4 linked regions of the Homo sapiens genome follow. The protein of the gene in region 4 purifies or fractionates together with the protein of the main gene of each other region. This does not show direct contact. Each region holds a gene or a part of one and is shown on either strand. Other genes may lie near its edges. The genes, in order: TMEM169, ACKR3, TMEM184A and ADGRG1.

What was found.
Region 1: the proteins of ADGRG1 (region 4) and TMEM169 purify together in Homo sapiens (co-immunoprecipitation; one large-scale study listed by IntAct). This does not show direct contact.
Region 2: the proteins of ADGRG1 (region 4) and ACKR3 purify together in Homo sapiens (co-immunoprecipitation; one large-scale study listed by IntAct). This does not show direct contact.
Region 3: the proteins of ADGRG1 (region 4) and TMEM184A purify together in Homo sapiens (co-immunoprecipitation; one large-scale study listed by IntAct). This does not show direct contact.

The regions. Positions count from the first base shown.
Region 1 is NC_000002.12:216,100,047-216,104,662, forward strand, and holds the end of TMEM169 (transmembrane protein 169), read left to right. Parts: coding exon 1-496; 3' UTR 497-2,737; downstream 2,738-4,616.
Region 2 is NC_000002.12:236,578,673-236,584,135, forward strand, and holds the end of ACKR3 (atypical chemokine receptor 3), read left to right. Parts: intron 1-334; exon of another isoform or gene 335-396; intron 397-1,767; 5' UTR 1,768-1,793; coding exon 1,794-2,882; 3' UTR 2,883-3,682; downstream 3,683-5,463. UniProt on the Homo sapiens protein: Atypical chemokine receptor that controls chemokine levels and localization via high-affinity chemokine binding that is uncoupled from classic ligand-driven signal transduction cascades, resulting instead in chemokine sequestration, degradation, or transcytosis.
Region 3 is NC_000007.14:1,552,203-1,558,680, reverse strand, and holds the start of TMEM184A (transmembrane protein 184A), read left to right. Parts: upstream 1-2,475; 5' UTR 2,476-2,567; intron 2,568-3,196; coding exon 3,197-3,415; intron 3,416-6,478. UniProt on the Homo sapiens protein: Acts as a heparin receptor in vascular cells. May be involved in vesicle transport in exocrine cells and Sertoli cells.
Region 4 is NC_000016.10:57,659,611-57,664,477, reverse strand, and holds part of ADGRG1 (adhesion G-protein coupled receptor G1 isoform b precursor), read right to left. Parts: coding exon 4,797-4,867; intron 3,711-4,796; coding exon 3,602-3,710; intron 2,782-3,601; coding exon 2,513-2,781; intron 1,027-2,512; coding exon 896-1,026; 3' UTR 1-895. UniProt on the Homo sapiens protein: Adhesion G-protein coupled receptor (aGPCR) for steroid hormone 17alpha-hydroxypregnenolone (17-OH), which is involved in cell adhesion and cell-cell interactions.

The sequences.
Region 1 (4,616 bases), on a different chromosome or scaffold from region 4:
CAAACCTAAAGAGTCATCAAGGGAAACGACGCCTGAAGGAAGAATGGCCTGCCAGATGGGAGCTGACCGTGGGCCCCATGTGGTCCTCTGGACGCTGATCTGCCTGCCTGTGGTTTTCATCCTTTCTTTTGTTGTCTCTTTCTACTACGGCACTATCACCTGGTACAACATCTTCCTCGTGTATAATGAGGAAAGGACCTTCTGGCACAAGATCTCGTATTGCCCTTGCCTCGTTCTCTTCTATCCAGTGCTCATCATGGCCATGGCTTCTTCCCTCGGCCTCTACGCTGCTGTGGTCCAGCTCTCGTGGTCCTGGGAAGCATGGTGGCAAGCTGCCCGGGACATGGAGAAAGGCTTCTGTGGCTGGCTCTGCAGCAAGCTGGGTCTGGAGGACTGTTCTCCCTACAGCATTGTGGAGTTGCTTGAATCCGACAATATCTCAAGCACTCTCTCCAACAAGGACCCCATCCAAGAAGTAGAAACCTCCACGGTCTAAACTCCCAACAACTTACTCCCTCCTCTGGCCCCAGTAGCCTATATATCATCTTAAAATTCCAGCAGATTATTTCTTTAAATTACCCCCTACTCTCCGCAGTTCTTCTGGGAAATCAGAGTCCATACTGATCAGTTTTACCATCTTGAGGGTTCCAGGAGGGCATGGAGCAGACAAGCAATTGTGCCAAAGCAGTTCACCCAATGGACAAACTCTTTTTGATTCCCTGCCCTAAAATCACCATTTATTTAGGACAATGGAACTCTGCTGTGTGTCGTTTTGGGAGCCTGGAAGTGTTACTGGTGCCTGGAACTGAGGGGAGTATGTGACTAAATGTGTCAGGGAGAATAAAGAACCTCGGGGTAACCAAATCCACCAAGATAATAGACAGGGATGGAGTGAGACATTTAGGAAGCTGGACTACCACAGTGTAGCAGAAGGTAAAGATTTGTGTGTATCATTTAGATTTAGATTTAGCTGCATAGAATTAAAACCCTAAAATATCAGTGGCTTAAACAAGATAGAAGTGTATTTCTTTCTTGTGCAGAAGAAGTCTGGAGGCAGACCATCCTGGGACCCTGTGAAGTAATCCAGGTCCCAGGCTTCTTCTATTTCTCTACCATTAGTAGGATGTGACCCTTCTCACCCTTATCCCCAACATCCCAGTGCTGATTACATCTTCAGCCATCACATCCATGTTTCTGATAAAATAGAGGAAAGGGCAGAGAAGCACACACCCTTCCTGTTCAAGGAGACTTCCCAGAAGTCCCACTCGATTCTTCTTATATCTCATTGGCAAGACCTCAGTCACATGATGTCATGAGCAAAAGAGGCTGGAAATGTAGTTGTTTGGCTGGGTAGCTATATTCTCAGCTAAATACTGGGTTCACGCTAATTGGCAAGAAAAAGGAAGAATGGTTATTTGGGTTTTGTTTTGTTTTGTTTTGTTTCGCTTTAGAGACGGAGTCTCACTCTGTTGCCGAGGCTGGAGTGCAGTGGCACTATCTCGGCTCACTGCAACCTTCGCCTCCTGGGTTCAAGCAATTCTTGTGCCTTGGCCTCCCCAGTAGCTGGGATTACAGGTGCGTGCCACCATACCCGGCTAATTTTTGTATTTTTTTTTTAGTAGAGATGGGGTTTCACCATGTGCCCAGGCTGGTCTTGAACTCCTGACCTCAGGTGATCCGCCTGCCTCGGCCTCCCAAAATGCTGGGATTGTAGGCAAGAATGGTTATCTTGGTAGGCAAGTCAGAATCTTTGCCTCACAATGATCATTTAAATACATTCAGAACCCCCAAACTGCTAATATGGTTTTATTTATTTATTTATTCATTCATTTGTTTATTCATTTATTTATTTAGGCCTGAATCTTACACAGAGAATTTATATATAGATATTAGCTACATATACTTTGAATATGCTATACATCGATATTAGCACCTCACGTACTTTGCAATTAAGCTTCTGTAATGTCATGTGATTTGTTTTTGGAAAGGAATAGTGGACAGGAGAGTACAATTTATAATAGTAGCATAACTCTTTGTCCTGGTGGTGGAGGTGGGACGAGGTGGTGATATTTAACCTAGATTAAAGACCAGGAAGGGAGGAATTGCATCTGCCAAAGTTTCCTCCAACAGCGATCAGTAGCCCTAAGTACAAAGAAGCCAGATTTAGCCTTCTGTTGTTTGGCAAAACCTCACTCAGAGCTTTACTCCCTCAGACCTTTCTGAGTTTAACCACAGACATGATCTTTGCTGTGCTGAGAAACTTGTGTCTACCTGGCCTGTAGGGAGTGTAAACTAGATTAATACAGATTAACAGACTCTGAACTTAAAAAAAAAAATCACTCCTAAGGGTGTCCTTCTAATTTCAAAATATCAACTCCTAAGAGGTCAGCAGAATTTGGAGATTTGGGTCCTTATAAGAATAGCTGGTGCTCTTTTCTTGTTCATGTCTCAAAACAAAGCTGTTGAGAGAACTGCTGCGATGAATCAAACCAGAGGAGTTTGTCATGCTCCCCACAGAGAGCCCAGGACATTTGCCTGATGTATGGTGCTGAGCTCCACCTTCAGAGGAACTCTCTCTTTTTTTTTTTTTTAAATAACTATTATTAGCTTGACAAGAAAAAAAAAGTGCCCAACAGTTTTAGTGTTAATCTTGGTGCTCTATGGTGCATTAGCAGAGATATGAACAATTAAATGAAGACAAAGAAAATAAAAATAAAGTCTGATTAACTTTTGCTCATTTTGTCTTTGAGGCTCTTCAAAATTGCTTTGAATGCTATGGTTTGCAGAAAAAGGGTGAGCATGATGGCTGTCCTATATGTATGTAATGATTTTAATATGAATCCTTGTGTCTGGACTCTTTCCATGCTTCACTAATTTTGGGGAATTCTATTTAGGTGGACTGTTTTCACAAACCACACTAGAAACTTGCAACCACATTTGTCCCATTTTTCTGGGGTTGGGGAAACCAATGGGAAAAGCCAAAAAGTTGTGATTAGGACACAGGTAAAGTGGCTGTGGTGCCATGGAAGAGTGTGGGATGATGATGAGATCATACCCAAGAGATACCTAGATAAAGTTGACATGGCCTTCATCCTAGTTGGGCTCATCATCTAGTGGAAGAAATAGGCTTGTAAATTAAAACCATTTCAAAGGGGTTCTATAGAGGTATGTAAAAGCCTAGACTAGAGGAAGGAAAAACAGAACCAAACAGAACCAAAGCATCTCATTTTTGCTCTCAGCAAACACCACAGAGACCATCAGAGGAGAAACTGGAGAGTTCAATACCATATTTGAACAATTCTTTTGGCTCATAGTTGCCTAATCATCGTGGTGAATATCAAGGAAGATGACTATATTTTCCAGTTGCTTAGCAGCCATAATGTGCTGAGCTGGATAAACCATGTCTGGCCCATAGGGTGACACTGATGTGTTTCCAAGTCATCTTGTCTATTGACATTAGGTAGCACCCTTCATTTCACTTCACATCCAAGAAGAATAAAACCCATGATTTTCTATAAAACAAGATTCTAAATCTTAAAAATAACCAATTTCAGATGATGTGAAAGTTTCATTCTGCCATTTTGGAATGGCCACCCAGAGCTTAATTTGTGCAGTGTTGAAAAATATTAGTGGACATCTTACTACTCACATCTGTTTGGGATATAAACTTTTTTTTTTGAGATGGAGTTTCGCTCTTGTCGCCCAAGCTGGAGTGCAATGGTGCAATCTCCGCTCACTGTAACCTCCGCTTCCTGGGTTCAAGTGATTCTCCAGCAGCTGGGATTACAGATGCGCCACCACCATGCCTGGCTAATTTTTGTATTTTTAGTAGAGATGAGGTTTCACCATGTTGGCCAGGATGGTCTCGATCTCTTGACCTCAGGTGATCCACCCGCCTCAGCCTCCCAAAGTGCTGGGATTACAGGCATGAGCCACCAAGCCCAGCCAGGACATAAACTTTTATTTCATATCTGTACTCTGTTAATATTCTACTTATTTTCTCAGTTACCCATATAACCATTGTAACAGCTCTCTGTCAGAACACAAAGCCTGTATATTTTAATTTTTATAGTGGTCAGGAAGTCATTACTCATAGTTCACGTTCAAGGTAATACCAAATGCAAACATATTCCAGCAACTTAAATTATAATTACAAAATAAAATTTTTATTTGCCTTTATTAACTACCTGAAGGGGAACACATGGTCTACATTGTAGCAATAGTTCAAAAAAATCTCTGCTGTTTCAGTTATCTATTGCTGCTGTAACATCTAAAACACAATGGCTTAAAATAACAGCTTGGTGTGCACCTATGGTCCCAGCCCCTCGGGAGGCTGAGGTGGAAGGATGGCTTGAGCCCGGGAGGTGGAGGTTGCAATGAGCTAAGATAGCGCTACTACACTCCAGCCTGGGTGACAGAGTGAGATCCTCTCTCAAAACAAAAGCAAAACCAAATAAACCCCACCAAAATAGTCACTCAATTCCTTTGCTCACAGTTTTGCAATTTGTGCAGAGCTTGGTGGAGACTACTAGTCTGCTCAATGTTTCTAGTGCTGAGATAGCTTCCTAAGGAGGATCTTCTCCCTAGACAGCCTCACTTGCGTGGCTGCCAAGTTG
Region 2 (5,463 bases), on a different chromosome or scaffold from region 4:
GCTGTGAATGTGGAGGCTGTGGAGCCGAGGCCGCGAAATTTCTCACTTTTCAGGGATTCTGTTCAAGTTGTCCCAAAGGAGAAGCCCATCAAACAACCCAGTCTCTGTGCGAGCTCCCCCGGGGGCATTTACTACTCAGCCAGTGAGAGCCAGGTTTCCAGGGGAATAGAATTAAACAAGGTTCTGCTTTTTGCTGAAGGGAAAAACCGCTCCCTTAGGTGGGAGAATCCCCAGGGTTCTTTCTTCCTGGCCAGGGAGGGAGAAGGGGGTGACGTTTTATTGAGCATCGGCTAGGGCCAAGCTCTCAATTAGGCCCTTTCTTCTTTCTTCTTAGGGTATCTGTGAGATAGGTGCTGCTGTCCTGGGGAGGTAGATGCAGACAGATTAACTCTCAAGGTAAATGCTAATGAATAGAGGAGCCAGAATCCCAACCCAGGAATGTCTGATCTCGGAGTGGGCGGCTTCCCAGCTGTGGCTTTGCATACCGCTAGCGTAGCCACCCGGACCCTGATCCCCTGACCCTTGTCCTTGATCCTCCAGGAAATTCTCATATGTAACCTGGAATCCACTTTAAATGAACTCGGTAAATAATGTCTTGACTCTAGGCCAGTCATTACCTGGGACAGGTGAGGGGGAAGGGCAACCACCTGACTATGTCACTGTCAACAGTGCATCCTTGGGCTGAGGTTTTCATTTTACAGTGGGGTTCAGGCAGGGCTAATTGCTGACCCAGGACTGTGGCCTGGAGGGATTTCAGGGCCTTCCCATGGGCGGACTGACAGTAGAAGACAGCCCCTGTCAGTCTATCTGAAGAAATCAGTGCCAGATAACAATGGTACCCCGTGGCTGAATTCTGGCTGGGAGTGAAATGGTGATGGAGTGTTGGTCTCACCTCAGGTCAGCAGGGAAAACAGTTGGGAAAATGGTCAGCCCTCCTGAAATGCAGCAGGTGGTGATTTTTGTGTTTTGAGTCTTGGCACACCTTGCTGTTGAAGCAGTTGAACAAATAAAGGAATGGAAAAACAGGTGCTGACCCAAAGCTTGAGACAGCTGGTTGGTTGCCCTTCGTTGAAAACCACACGGCCAACCCAGAGTCTTCAGGTTTGGGGCGCAGTTAAGCTGTGGGGCACCCTGCGTAGGCTCACTGTGTTTCCAGAGGCTTTATGACTGCACACTGGGGCCGCCTGAGACCCAGGTTTATATGTGAATTTAGCAGACAAGTAAAAAGTGCTGAGTCACATTATAAATGCAAATTTGGAGGAGGATTTGAAATGCTTTCATTAAGACACCAAAGCAGGACACTTGTAATACAGCAGTGCCAGGAGAGGACAACCCTGCCATTCTTTGGGGACCTAGATAAAATGGCTCCACTGTCCCCTGCTGAGAGTGAGCAGGCCATCAGCATCGCGGTGGCCGGGGCTCAGCTGCCTGACGTTTCTTTGGCCCCTGTACTGTGTTGATTTCACACACTGGGCACAGCCATGCTGGCGGTGTCTTGAGAACACAGCCATGAAAAGATGGAGAAAGCAAACACAGTTTCTGTCTTGGAGCACCACATGGATTTAGATTCAGAGTATGATTTATTTTGTTTTGGAGAGTTTTATTATGAATTTTTTTTCTCCCTTCTTTGCAAAGACATTACAGAGCTAAACCCAAACAGCTGAGCCTATCAGGGCCTTGGAAAAGCATTTTTGCCTGAAACTTGAGTTTTTCCTAATGAAGTGACTTTCCTCTTCCATCTTTTTTGTTTGCTTGGTTTTCTCATAGGTCATTTGATTGCCCGCCTCAGAACGATGGATCTGCATCTCTTCGACTACTCAGAGCCAGGGAACTTCTCGGACATCAGCTGGCCATGCAACAGCAGCGACTGCATCGTGGTGGACACGGTGATGTGTCCCAACATGCCCAACAAAAGCGTCCTGCTCTACACGCTCTCCTTCATTTACATTTTCATCTTCGTCATCGGCATGATTGCCAACTCCGTGGTGGTCTGGGTGAATATCCAGGCCAAGACCACAGGCTATGACACGCACTGCTACATCTTGAACCTGGCCATTGCCGACCTGTGGGTTGTCCTCACCATCCCAGTCTGGGTGGTCAGTCTCGTGCAGCACAACCAGTGGCCCATGGGCGAGCTCACGTGCAAAGTCACACACCTCATCTTCTCCATCAACCTCTTCGGCAGCATTTTCTTCCTCACGTGCATGAGCGTGGACCGCTACCTCTCCATCACCTACTTCACCAACACCCCCAGCAGCAGGAAGAAGATGGTACGCCGTGTCGTCTGCATCCTGGTGTGGCTGCTGGCCTTCTGCGTGTCTCTGCCTGACACCTACTACCTGAAGACCGTCACGTCTGCGTCCAACAATGAGACCTACTGCCGGTCCTTCTACCCCGAGCACAGCATCAAGGAGTGGCTGATCGGCATGGAGCTGGTCTCCGTTGTCTTGGGCTTTGCCGTTCCCTTCTCCATTATCGCTGTCTTCTACTTCCTGCTGGCCAGAGCCATCTCGGCGTCCAGTGACCAGGAGAAGCACAGCAGCCGGAAGATCATCTTCTCCTACGTGGTGGTCTTCCTTGTCTGCTGGCTGCCCTACCACGTGGCGGTGCTGCTGGACATCTTCTCCATCCTGCACTACATCCCTTTCACCTGCCGGCTGGAGCACGCCCTCTTCACGGCCCTGCATGTCACACAGTGCCTGTCGCTGGTGCACTGCTGCGTCAACCCTGTCCTCTACAGCTTCATCAATCGCAACTACAGGTACGAGCTGATGAAGGCCTTCATCTTCAAGTACTCGGCCAAAACAGGGCTCACCAAGCTCATCGATGCCTCCAGAGTCTCAGAGACGGAGTACTCTGCCTTGGAGCAGAGCACCAAATGATCTGCCCTGGAGAGGCTCTGGGACGGGTTTACTTGTTTTTGAACAGGGTGATGGGCCCTATGGTTTTCTAGAGCAAAGCAAAGTAGCTTCGGGTCTTGATGCTTGAGTAGAGTGAAGAGGGGAGCACGTGCCCCCTGCATCCATTCTCTCTTTCTCTTGATGACGCAGCTGTCATTTGGCTGTGCGTGCTGACAGTTTTGCAACAGGCAGAGCTGTGTCGCACAGCAGTGCTGTGCGTCAGAGCCAGCTGAGGACAGGCTTGCCTGGACTTCTGTAAGATAGGATTTTCTGTGTTTCCTGAATTTTTTATATGGTGATTTGTATTTAAATTTTAAGACTTTATTTTCTCACTATTGGTGTACCTTATAAATGTATTTGAAAGTTAAATATATTTTAAATATTGTTTGGGAGGCATAGTGCTGACATATATTCAGAGTGTTGTAGTTTTAAGGTTAGCGTGACTTCAGTTTTGACTAAGGATGACACTAATTGTTAGCTGTTTTGAAATTATATATATATAAATATATATAAATATATAAATATATGCCAGTCTTGGCTGAAATGTTTTATTTACCATAGTTTTATATCTGTGTGGTGTTTTGTACCGGCACGGGATATGGAACGAAAACTGCTTTGTAATGCAGTTTGTGACATTAATAGTATTGTAAAGTTACATTTTAAAATAAACAAAAAACTGTTCTGGACTGCAAATCTGCACACACAACGAACAGTTGCATTTCAGAGAGTTCTCTCAATTTGTAAGTTATTTTTTTTTAATAAAGATTTTTGTTTCCTAAAAATGCATCAAGTCTCAGTTTTCAAAGTGTGTTTTGGCACTTGAATAGCACACATGATAATAATTCATGGATATATATGGCACACACAGGCCACCTGCATGAACATGCTCAGAAAAAGAGTGCTGCTGTAAAGCAAAAGCTACCAGGTTAACTTGTTTGAAATGATATAAAAAGAAAAAATCATTTGAGCACACTGCATGGTTTTTAAAAAAATTTTCAGGCAATAGTGTTTTTGGTGTGGGGGATGATTGCTAGGGTCCAGCTAGGAGAGAAGGCTGGCACAGAGAAGGTGCCACTTGCTTCTACTTCCTGCTGGCCAGAGCCATCTCTGTTCTGAACCTGTCTGAACTCTCCGTCCAGACAGGAGAGTTTCAGGGTGCAGGACTGGTGTCCTCATCTGTACCACCTGTGTGCTTCCAGGGCCAGTGGCACAGCCCCTTAAATCTCATCTGCTAAGGTAAACACCTCCAGGGGCAATATTTCCTATTGAGAGTTTTCATTTAAACCATGCCAATCAGCTACCCCCTTGAGGCCACACAATGAGCGAATCCCCAGCTTGCGCATGTCCTTACTAGTGGTTGGAAAGAGTGCTCTCAGAATGGCCAGTTCCTGCTGTGCCCTCTCTAACTCTACCTGGAGCCACAAGAATGGCGGAGACTTCAACAGACGAGTCAGCTGGGCAGGGGCTCAGAGAGGGGCTGGGCTCCCAGCACTGCCCTCACCACCTCCACCTCTGCCAAGACCTCTCTGCACAGAGAGCTGTTTGCCAACCCAAAGGCAGACCCAGATGCTCGTCTGACCTGTGGGCTTGGGCGCTGCTGCTAGGTTGGAAAGCACCTTGTGCAAGTCCTTGCCCCACAGACCCACAATGGGCAGCCCTGCAGTCCCCAGGGGCCCATAGACCGAGTGCACTACAGGGGAATCCTATTTCCTGCAAAGGTCTTCACAGCTTAGAGTTTTGAAACTAGGGCTGTAACTTACTGGAAATATGTTCTTGATACACATGTACATCCTCAGGTGCATATATACACCTGGTCTTCAGTGGGATTCTGGTCCGATAACAATGATGTAGATAGTGGGATAACAGCATACAAGAGGCAAAGATACCAAGAAGAAGGGAAAATAAGAGTAGGTAGGATGGCAACATGGAATCGGGAAAGTTCTCGACCCAAATATGTGTTCCTTGACGATAAAAATGGCTTGCATGTTTGCTGTGAGCCTTCTAGGGGTCAAGTTCAGGCAGAAATACACTTTTCCAGTAGTAAATTCAAAATGGGGAGGGGGAGGAGGGCATCAATTGCAGTCCACATGCTCAGCCTTGCAATAGATGGGCGGTAAAAGGCATTCAACTGAACTGCTATGCTGAATTGCCATCGCGGTCCATCCAGCGGTCTCTCCCACCCGCTTACCCTAGAATTTCAGTAGGTTCCCGGGGGCTAACAGTGCTGGGGTGGGTGAGGGTCTTTCAGGCTTGTGTGTCTACGTGGATGTCTGAGAGGACCTGTCGATCCTTCTGCAGGGCTCCTCTGCCACCCCAGTTCATGTGGCTCTTGCTGCTGCTTTTGCCTCGCTGGATGGTGAGACTGGTCTGGCCCTTTTCTGTTTTTCTGCTGTTCTGCAGCCTGGGGGCTGCCCCAGCTGCCTCCTCCCACACTGCAGTGGAGGGGGTGGGGAGGGAGGGTGACACTGAACTGGACCCGGACTCACCAGGTGGCACCTTTTGCTTTGGGGGGATTTTCCATCTCCCACAGGGCCCAGGGCACCGTGGCCTACTGTCCCAGACC
Region 3 (6,478 bases), on a different chromosome or scaffold from region 4:
CAGTGCCTCCTGCTGTCTGCACAGCCATTCCCACCGTCAGCCCAGGGAGGGGCCCGAGGCTTCATCCTGTGCTGGGGGCTGGACGCAAATCAAGCAGGGGCTGGGGCCTCAGTTTCCCTGCCTGTAGCATGAGCGAGTTGGATGAGGGGATTCCCGGTCCCTTCCAGCTCTGCGCATGCCCAGGCACCAAAGTCTTCACCCTTCAAACGGGCCCCCAGCCATCGTCACTTCATAGTTGTCCGTGACGGTGATCCCGACACAGCCAGAGGGCGACATCCACACGCGCTGAGCCGACTGCCTGGGGCTCTGCAGGCCGGGTGGGAGGCCGGCAGGAGTACCTGTGGCTGCAGTGGGAATGCAGCTGGATGGAAGTTGGGGACCGCCTTCCAGCACCCCTGCCTGGCCAAAGGGAGACCTTAGCCCACAGGGTCACCGCCTCAGCAGGACAGCCCCCACCCCGCAAGCCCTGTGCCCCGAGCATGGACAGGGCACAGCTCTAGGCTCTGGCAGCTCCTGCAGAGGGAGGACCAGCAGCAAACACAGACAGGTGGACAGGGAGTCACACACACAGTGAGGAGGGTGATGGGACAGCGGGGATGGTCTCTCCAGAGGTGACGCCTGAGGCTGCAGGACAGAGTCACCCGGGAGCAGGGTCGGTTGGTCCAGAAGGTCCCTGCCTGGGGAGCAGGCAGGCTCCAGGAGGGCCCAGCCAGGGTGTGCATGCTGTGGCTCTGGGCCCGGGCCCGGGTGGGCGCTGATGGGGAGGTTAGGCAAGGCGGGCCTGAGAGCTGGGCACGACTTCCTGAGCTTGTTCCCCACCTGGGAGCCTCCCTGGAGGGACAGTGTCAGTGGAGGAGTTGGGAAAAGCAGGCAGGGTGTCCCAGGGAAGGATGGGCCTCAGCCCGGGCCCCTCACGGACCCCTCAAGGATGCTGGACGCGTTGATGCGCCTCTCGTTCCCATCTCTAAAAGGGGAACAGGCCGGACGTGGTGGCTCAAACCTGTAATCCCAGCACTTTGGGAGGCTGAGGCGGGCAGATCACCTGAGGTCAGGAGTTCAAGCCCAGCCTGGCCAACGTGGTGAAACCCCGTCTTTACTAAAAATACAAAAATTAGCTAGGTGTGGTGGTGGGCGCCTGTAATCCCAGCTACTCGGGAGGCTGAGGCAGGAGAATCACTTGAACCCAGGAGGCGGAGGTTGCAGTGAGCCGAGATCGCGCCATTGTACTCCAGCCTGGCGACAGAGCGAGGCTCCGTCTCAAAAAATAAATTAATTAAAAATAAAAGGGGAACAGTGGCTCCAGTCATTCCAGCCTCAACCCCTTGAGCCCTGTTGCTCAGGGCTGTGGGAGGGTAGGAGATATGAAGGACAAGGAGTGTGTGGATCCGTTGCGGGCATGGAGCGGGACTTGGTAATGGTGGCCCCAGCGGCATGAGCCCAAGCGTAACCAGAACAGGACAAGAGGTGGGCTGAGGGCCCACATCCCTCTCCCAGGAGCCGGGGTGAGTGAGTTTTTTCTCCACAGGGGCCTCTGCATGGGGGTGACAGGGACCCTCAGGGCCCCGCAACCCCTTGCCAGACCCCAAAGGGTCCAGGGACTGGGCTGTCACTCCCCCTCTCCTGCCTTGATCCACAAAAACCAGAAATATTTCCTTTTTTTTTTTTTTTTTTTTTTGGACACAGAGTCTCCCTCTGTCCCCAGGCTGGAGTGCAGTGGTGTGATCTCAGCTTACTGCAACCTCCGCCTTCTGAGTTCAAGCGATTCTCCTGTCTCAGCCTCTTGAGTATCTGGAATTACAGGTGCACGCTGCCACACCTAGCTAATTTTTGCGTATTTCGTAGAGACGGCGTTTCACCATGTTGGCCAGGCTGGTCTCGAACTCCTGACCTCAAGTGATCCACCCACCTTGGCCTCCCAAAGTGTGGGGATGACAGGCGTGAGCCACCACGCCCGGCCCAGAAAACAAATGTTTTCAACTCATCTCTTGGGGCGTGGATTTTTTTTTTAATTCAGATGAAATTCACATAACATCAATTTACCCAGGTTTAAGTGAACGATTCGGTGGCGGTAAGTATATCCACAGTGCTGTGTGCCTGCCGCCTCTACCTCATTTCAGGACTCCTGTCACCCCCCAGAGAAACCCTGTACCATTAGCTCTCCACCCCTCCTCCTGCAGCCCGGCCCTCCTTGGCCTGCCGCAGACCTCTCCCACGTGTCCCCACCAGGTGGCAGCTGCCTGGCCGTCTGGCATAGGCAGGTGAGGGCGCCAGGCGGCCAGCAGGTTCCTGGGAGCCAGCTGCCACCCAGCAAACAACCGGGAGGATAGGGTGTCAGCCGTGGGAGGGGACAGGAGGGGACGGGCCTGCAGCCTGGGGCCCAGGTGGGCCACTGGGGACGTGAGGCACTGGCCGCCCCGCCCCAGCCTGGCACAGCCCTTCAGATCCTGGCCTTGCCGCACCCACAGTGGGGCCTCCAGTTGGGGCCACGTGGCCATGAGAATGACCAGCTAGGCTTCCCTGGAGGCCAGGCCTCCCTGGACTGGGCCAGGTGCTTCCTGCCAGCAAAGGTAGAGCTGGGCCCTGTGACCGCAGACCAGAGGGAGAGGAGGAGGCTGGACTGGGCTGCGAGTGTGGGAGAGGGTGGACTCAGGGCCCCAGCAGGTTAGTGGGAGATGGAACAGGCACCCAGGGCTGCCAAGAACCCCAGCAAAGCCGGGCTCCCAGGTGGGTGGACAGGTCCCAGAGCCAGTGAGGGCCGGCTCCTCCCATGAGGGTGGCTGCACACCCCCTCCTGCCGGGGCAGGCAGTGCTGGTCTGCGCCCGCTCCCCAGCCCTCCCGGGCAGGCAGGGCGGCAGGGGTTCCCCCTCTTCTGCCCCACTGGAAGACGGTCTTTGTCCCCTAAGAAGCAGGCTCCCTGCAAGCCTGAGACTCGGAGTTGGAAGCTGGTTTTACAAGGGGGAATTGAGGTGGGACCCTCAGGTCGCAGGTGGTTGATGGGTGAGCTTCGATGGCTGAGCTCGGAGCAGGGAGGGAGCCGGGCCTGGCGCTGGTGTCCGTGTGGGGGGTGCGGCCTGGTGGGTGGCTCAGCCTCAGCTCCCGTCTCACTGTCTCCTCCCTCCCCCGCTGCTTCCTGCTGCCGGGAGCCAGTACCTTTGCCCTCACTCCTCCCGGTGTGTGTCCTCCCTCCCTCTGCAGATGAGTAATGTCTCAGGGATCCTGGAGACAGCCGGCGTCCCCCTGGTGTCAGCGAACTGGCCGCAGCCCAGCCCCCCACCGGCTGTGCCAGCTGGGCCGCAGATGGACCACATGGGGAACAGCTCCCAGGGGGCCCCCTGGCTCTTCCTCACCTCCGCACTGGCCCGAGGCGTCTCGGGGATCTTCGTGTGGACTGCCCTGGTGCTCACCTGCCACCAGGTAAGCCCTTCCGCCCCCGAGCCTCCTTCAGGACCTTGGTCTCCACAGGACGTGGCCGTGGCTCAGCCCGGTCCCCCTGGGTGCCGCTGCTATAGACGCTGTCAGAAGTGGGATCGGCCAGGGCACGGGGGAGGGGATGAGCTTCCCCAGGATGTGGCATGTGGGAGCTGGGCCTGAAAATGGGGAGATCTCTGCCAGGCTGAGGGCAGAGCGCCCACCGGGCACCCCTGGCTATTTCACAGGCTCGTCACTCGGCTCACTGAGGTCTGCAGTGTGGTCCCATTTCACAGACAAGAAGACTGAGTCTCAGAGAGACCAGAGGTCTTTCCCAGGCTCACATAGCTGGAAAGGGGAAGGGGCCTTCTCCTTCCAGAGGCGTGACACCCTGGAGAAGGCTGGTGGGAGGTTGGCAGGGGGTTGGACTTTGCTCTGTAGGGAGCTGGGGAGCAAAGGTCACAGCTTGTTAGAGGGACCGGGACTCCTGTGCAGGAGATGGGCGAGAAGCAACTTCCCCAAGCCCGAAGCCACACACAGCCCCCGACCCGGAGCAGTCCCCAGGTGGGAACAGAACAGCCCCCAGGTAGAGAAGCGGCCAGGCGCTGTGGCAAGGAAGGGCCAGGCAGGGGCAAGGAGGAAGTGGTGCCCGAGGGCAGGGGCTGGGCAGAGAGGGCAGGGAGTCAGGGACAGGACCCTCCTGAGAGACTCAGATACACAGAGAGGCCAGGGCGGTGTGCGCAGGGGTGGGGTGGGAGTGCGTGTGTAGGCCCGCGAGGGCCACACGGCTGCAGGGATTTGTCCAGAGCCCTTGACCCCAGTGCGGTGAGGTGGCTTTCAGGGGGTGCTGGGAGCCCAGGAAGGCTGTGGAGGGCTGGGCTGAGGGCAGAGCTGCTTCCCGGGTGCACGGGGCACTGGTGTAGGGAATGGATCTGTAGGTGAGCTGGGGCAGGGGGCCATCAGGAGACTGGCAGGCAGGGACACCGGTGGCCACAAGTCTCCGAGGGAGCATCTCAGTGACAGTTTATTAACTGCTTATTAGCCGGGCATGGGGGCCTGCACTGTTAGTCCCAGCTACTTGGGAGGCTGAGATGGGAGGATCGCTTGAGCCCAGTTCAAGGTTGCAGTGAGCTGTGAACAGATAACCAGAACCCACGGTAGACGTGTATGAGTGTGGCCTGGAGTGTGCAGAGCCGCGGAGGCAGTGCCGAGGCAGGCCCTTCCTGTAAGGCCATCAGAGAGGGCTTCCCGGAGGAGGCCGTCTTTCCGCTGTAATCCTGGGAACCGGCTGTGTGTGCGCGGCTGTAGTGTGGCTTTAGCTTCATGGGGCCTCGCAGTCAAGACAGGGCTCATGGAGACCCCTTGGGCTGGAGTTCAGGCCCTGTCCCACCCCTGAGCCCACCGCCAGAGTCACCCTTGAGTGAGGAGTCCCAGGCAGGACACAGAGTGGCTGGATCCCCCTCACTTTATACATGGGAGGACCGAGGCCGGAGAGGACAGTGGCTTGTCAAGGTCACCCAGCCAGGCAGCGCCAGCCCCGGGAGAGGTCTCCTGATGGCTGGTCATGCCGTCCCTCCCAGGGACCATCGGGGAGCGTGTGACTGATAAGAGTCTGTTCCTGCCTCCAACCTCCCCCAACTCCCTGAGCTGCACCCCAAGCGGCCAGGTGCACGTAGCCTCTGCTCGCCCACCGCCACGCATGCACCTCCTCCAGAAGGCCTTCCCCAGGAGCCCCTGTGCGCCCAGCTCCCAGGCTCGGCTGACCCTGTCTCAAAGACCCTGTAGTTGAGTTGTATCCTCACAGAAAACATGGAAAATCGGTCAGGCGTGGTGTCTCACACCTGTAATCCCAGCATTGTGGGAGGCCAAGGCGGGTGGATCACCCGAGGTCAAGAGTTTGAGACCAGCCTGGCCAACATGGGGAAACTCTGTCTCTACTAAAAATACAAAAATTAGCCGGGCATGGTGGTGCGCGCCTATAATCCCAGCTACTCAGGAGGCTGAGGCAGGAGAATCACTTGAACCCGGGAGGCGGAGGTTGCAGTGAGTTGAGATTGCGCCACTGCACCCCAGCCTGGGCAACAGAGCAAGACTCCGTCTCAATAAAAAAAATAATAATTAAAAATTAAAAAAAATAAAAACGTGGAAAATCTAGAAAGGTTTAAAGGCAAACACTACTATAATCACCCATACTTTTTCCCAGGCTTTCTTTTTTTTTAGGCAGGATCTCACTCTGTGACCCAGGCTGCAGTCCGGTGGCACAATCAGTGCTCACTGCAGCCTCCGCTTCCCGGATTTAAGCCATCCTCCCACCTCAGCCTCCCGAGTAGCTGGGACTGCAGGCGCCCGCCACCACGCCTGGCTAATTTTTGTATTTTTTAGTAGAGATGGAGTTCGCCCTGTTGACCAGGCCGGTCTCGAACTCCTGAGCTCAGGTAATCCGCCCACCTTGGCCTCCCAAAGTGCTAAGATTACAGGCGTGGGCCACCGTGCCTGGCCCCTAGGGAGGGACAAATTCTTAGGAATCAAAGGGTGCACATCCTTTGGATGCCCCCACAGCAAAAGCCAATGTGCCTTCTGAGAGTCTGCCCAGCCCAGGACCGGGACGTGTCCCCTCTCCGTCCCCCGGGTTGGACACTTAGCTGGGCTCTAGAAACGCCTGCTGAATGAAGGAATGAGTGAGCGTTCCCATTCCCAGGCTAAGAACAAACAGGACCCTCACTCATGCCCAAGGAACTTATTCAGAAAAAAAAAAAAAAAAAACCTATTGTACAACATGGTGACTGTTATAAATAACAATGTATTCTATGCTTGAAAATTGCCAAGAGAGTACATTTTACATGTCCTCCCCGCAAAGAAATGCTAAGTATGGGAGATAATGGAGACGTTAATGGGTTTGACTCAGCCATTCCCCACGAACACACATATCAGACATCGCGCTGCACACTGTAAATGCATACAATTTTGATTTGCCAATTTAAAAAATAAATTTTAGGCCAGGTGCAGTGGCTCATGACTATAGTCCCAGCACTTTGGGAGACGGAGGCAGGAGGATCCCTTGAGCCTAGG
Region 4 (4,867 bases):
GCTGAGGGCCCCTCTGAGGCGTGTGCTTGGTCAGGGTGAGCAAGGGCAATGCAGCTCATACAAAGGCCCAGATGGACAGAGGGACCTAGCCCAGCCCACGCATCGGTACCGAGCCTGGCTCAGGGGCAGGCCGAGGCTTGTGCAGTAGACAAACATTTACAGCAGACACCAGGCAGCTCCTGGAAACCACTCCCCAAAAAACAGCATTGGAATCGGGGACCCCCAGCTGTGAACGAAGGAGCAAGGAGGCCCTGGGAGAGGAGGAGAACCCCAGGGAAGATGGAGGGAGGACTGGGGGGCTGAGGGAGGGAGGGGGCCTGGGCTCAGAGGTAGGCGAGCTGCTGCTGTGCTCCTGGCAAAGGGCCTCTCCTCCGCCAGGGCTCTGGCCCTGAAGGTCTGCCCTGGGCCCCATTCGCCCTGGGTGCCACCTGAGGTTAAAATGACAGAGGATGCAGAGTGCCCTCAGGGTGACCACGAGAGACAGAGCAACTGGAGCCACATTTCTGTCCCAGGCAGGGGCACAGGATTAAGGATGTGCCAGACCCTCAAGATCCAAGGCCTGGCCCCCAGCAATGAGGGCTGGGCCCAGGGGTTGTAAGGAGAGACCAGGCCTCCAGCTGGGTTGGGACAGATGTGGGGACAGTACCCTAGGCAGCATGGCGGCGCACTTCTGAGTCCCGTGGGAGCTGAGTGAGAGCCGAGTAGTCCCCAAGGCCAATTCAAAAGCCCAGCCCGGGAGTCCGTCCACCATGGCAACGGCCCATCTCTCCATGGTCGTTGGGCTTTCCAAAGTCTGCGGCTGACTGGCCTGGGGCTGGGCCGGGCTCGGGGGCCACAGGCAGTGTGCGACGAGGCCGAATCTCTGCTTCATCACATGGGCAGGTGGGCTGGAGGCCTAGATGCGGCTGGACGAGGTGCTGCCCGAGCTGATGGGGAGCCTGGCGCTGTCTGAGTTGCTCTTCAGAGGGGAGGGGCCACCCCGGGCCTGCAGCCGCATGGACCAGTACCAGATGAAGATGAGGAAGCCTGCGGGCAGTGAGGGCACGGGGTCAGCAGGTGGGGGAGCCCCACCCCATCCCTCCTCCTCCCTCCCCAGCCATTGTGACTCGGGTCTGCCCCACCTCTCCATAGTGTTTGCCAAGCACGTGCTGTCGGGCACCCATGAGACCCAGCGAGCACCTCCTATGAGCCGGGCACTGTGCTGCGTCCCCGTGTGGCCTCTCACTGTCACAAACTTCCTAGGCCCATCCTATTCATTACTATTCTCTTTTGTAAACAAGGAAACTGAGGCCCAGGAGGCTCAGGTAAAGGGACGTGGCTGAGCCAGGGCTCAAACTGTGGTGAACAGGCTCTGAAGTCCACCCACTTAAGCACTGTGAGATTTTGCACCCCTCAAATTAATAGCACTATGATGTATCCACAGCTTAGTAAATGTCTGTGTGAATGTATGGGCCTCACTTACAATCCTGAGTCCCCTCATCTCACAGGCAGGAATGAAGGCTTGAATGTTAAATAACCGAAATGTGGTAACATCTCCCCACCACCAACTCCCAGCTCCCATTCTAGGGTGACCCTGTATGGGAGGCTGGCCTTGAACCCCATGAGAGCCCCTGGGCCTGGCCATACAACCCCCTTCCATTCTGCACGGCCAGGAACAGAGGGGTGTGCATGCCTGTGTGTGCACCTCAATGTACACACACAGGTACATGCACAGAAAGGGACCCTGTTGGCATCAAGCCAGAGCCATCATGACCCTGCCCTGGGATCCCACCTCTCCGCCCCGACCCGCCGCCATCTGGCCACGCTCTCCCTCACTGTCCTTCCTACACACAACCGGTTCCAACCTCAGGATCTTTGTTCTTGCCTCTCCCTCTGCCTGGAGCTTCCTTCCCCTAGACCAGGGCTCCTGATCCTATCATGTGCACGTGACCCCTTGGGCATTTGTGAAAATGCAGATTCTGATGTGGCAGGGCCCGGGTGGCCCAGAGGCTGCGTTTCCAAAAAGCTCCTAACAACGCTGCTGCTGCTGGTCTGTGGACCGCGCCTGGAGTAGGGAGGCCCCCCCATCTCTCCATGGGGGGATCCTTCTCTTGTCTTCACACGTCTCATATCCAGAGAGGCCTCCCTGGCCACCCTTCTTAGGGTGTCCCCCACCCCAGCCGAGGCCCTGTGCAGCACGTGCTCACGACGATGTCCCTACTATCTGGGACCACCTTTGATGGCTATATGCTTGCCTGCTCATGCGCAGTCTTCCCCAGTAGAGCTGAGTTCCAAAAGAACAAGGCCCACACCCAACCAGCTCAGCCATAAGCCCTGTGGCTTAACACAGGGCCTGCACATAGTAGGTGCTCAATCAAGACTTGTTGACTGTGGCCTGGATGTCCCCATTTTATGAATGGGATGACTGAGGCCCAGAGAAGGGAAGTCTTCAGGTTCCCTGGGTGATCTCTTCCCTGCCCTTGCTCCATGTGTAGACACCCTGCCTGGGCCAAGGGACGGGTCTTCTCCTTACCTTGGAAGGAGGTGATGATGCTGAAAAGGTAGAGGACGACAAGCTGGAAGGTGCCAGAAGCAAAGGAGAAGAAGATCAAGGCCCAGGGCAGGCCAAGGACCAGGCTGAGGCCCAGCAGTGTCAGCACATGTGACCACTTTTGGGTGTGGGGGCGCAGCCGCAGGATCTGCACCACCATGGTGGCTAGCATGGCCATGTTGAACAGAAACACCAGGCTGAAGAGGCCCAGGTTGGTGATGTAGCTGACCAGGGAGTCCCGGATCCAGCACCTGCGGGCAAAGGCAGGAGGGCTCAGCGTGTGGCCAGCACGGGCAGCATTTCCTGGGCTGTGGTTGTCATGTTTGTTTTCAGGATTATCCACTGTTTACAGCAAGTGCGCTTGTTTTCTATTTACAGTGTTGATGTAATTTTAAAAATACATTTGAGTTAACAAGTCAGATTGTTTAAAGGAAAATGTTAAGTAAGTAATAATATAGATAGTACAAAAGTGAGGCAGAAATCACTGGGTCACAACATAAAGAGCTGAAAATTTCAAAACCACTGAGCCAATGGGAAGGATTCCTTCCCAGGCTGGAGCTCAGGAACCCTGGCTTCCGGTTTGGGTTCAGGGGATCCACAGGCAGGGCCGCTGCCAGCCTGGGTGAATCAGGTGAGTGGAGAAGGACTGGACTTCAACCCCACTCATCCTCTGCCTCCGAACAGCACACCAGCCCTCAGTGTGGCCAAGAGCGGATCTCTTCCCTCCCTGAGCCTCTGTCTTCCCATCTGCATGGGGAGACAGAGAGGTGCTGCTGAGGAATGTGGTGAGGCTCATCTGCTCCAACCCATACCCCCATTCATGCATGAGGAAACCGAGGCTCAGAGAAGGGCCGGGGCCTGTGCAAGGTCACCTGGTGAGTGAGTGGTAGATCCAGGCCTTTTCTCACCCTCCATGACTCTTAGACCAGTGCTTCAGCCACTGCCAGGCCAATTCCTCGAGGAGACTGGAACCCAGGTGTCCCCTGGCCAGCATGACCTGGGCCCGGGCTGCACTCTGGCCTCTGTGCCCAGAGACCCACCTTCTTGCCCCCATTGCACACAGCCACTCACATGGAAGGGTAGATGACGCCCTCTGGAGTCCTATGCACAGCCAAGATGATGGGGCCATAGTTGTCCACATCCACCAGGGCCACCAGCGTCACCAGAAAGATGGGGAAGCCTGAGGGTGGCAATGCATGTTGCTCTACTTCCCGCTCTCTGAGGCCTGCCCATTCCCTGCTGGCCTCAGGGAGTCTGGAGGGCAAGGGCCCCTCTGAAGTTTGGGCTCCTGAAGCCCACCCAGCCCCATCTGGTGGGGAAGTTCCCCCAAGTTTGGACCCTCCCCCTCCCCATTCCAGTATGGGTTTCCTATAAGGGGATGCCATCTCCTCCAACCTTAGCCCTGCCCTTCGTCACCCTGGGGGCCCCTGGGAGAAAGGCCTGTGGGTCTCTGCTGCAGGGCTGGATGTCACAGGGGAGATGGGAGGGGCAGACAGTTTAGGAGGGACGGCAAGAGTTCTGCCATCAGGGGACGTCTGCACTGGGCCTTGACCTCGCCCGTTCGGTGGAGATTAGAAGCTCCCTAGAGGGGGCTGCCCACCTCCAAACACAAAGTCCTGACACAGAGACACCTCCAAAGGAATTTCATGCAAATGGGGGAATGGACAAAGAAGGGGCCCAATGACAAACCCGCGAAGAGCAGCAAGCTGGAGTCAGGGGCATGCGGAGGTTGAGGGGTCTGTGCAATGTCCAAACAGACTTGTGGCATCATGAGCCCCTGGGCTGTAGGTCTGACATAAGAGGGCTGGCCACAGGTGAATTGAACAGTCATTGGCCAAGAACAAAATGCCAAGCCACAGGGAATCTGTTACCCAAGGTCCAGGGGGATCCTGAGGCAGGGCCACTGCCAGCCCGAGTGAATTAAATGACTGGAGCGGGACTGGATTTCAGCCCCTCTGATCTCTGAACTGGGTGCCTTTGAGCAGTGCACAACCTGCACATTCACACACGGTGGCCCTGCTCGTAAATCCCCTTTGCAATGGAGTGAGTGATGTGGAGAATTTGGAAGTGTTTCTTGGGGACAGGGCTCACTGCTTCTTCCTAAAGGGGACCTTGATTCAGCCAAGGTGAAGGACACCTGAGGATGAGTGAAGGAGGCCAGGAGGGAAGTCAGAGAGATAGGTGGAGAGGCAGAACCAGGTGCCTGGGTTTTGCCAGAGCCAAGTGGGAGAGGCAGGTCTGAGGCACCCCCCGCCCAACCACTTACCCCAGCCCATGGCGCTCAGCTTGAGTAGGTAGCCAGGGACATAGGTGCCAAAGACCTCCACCACGAGTCGG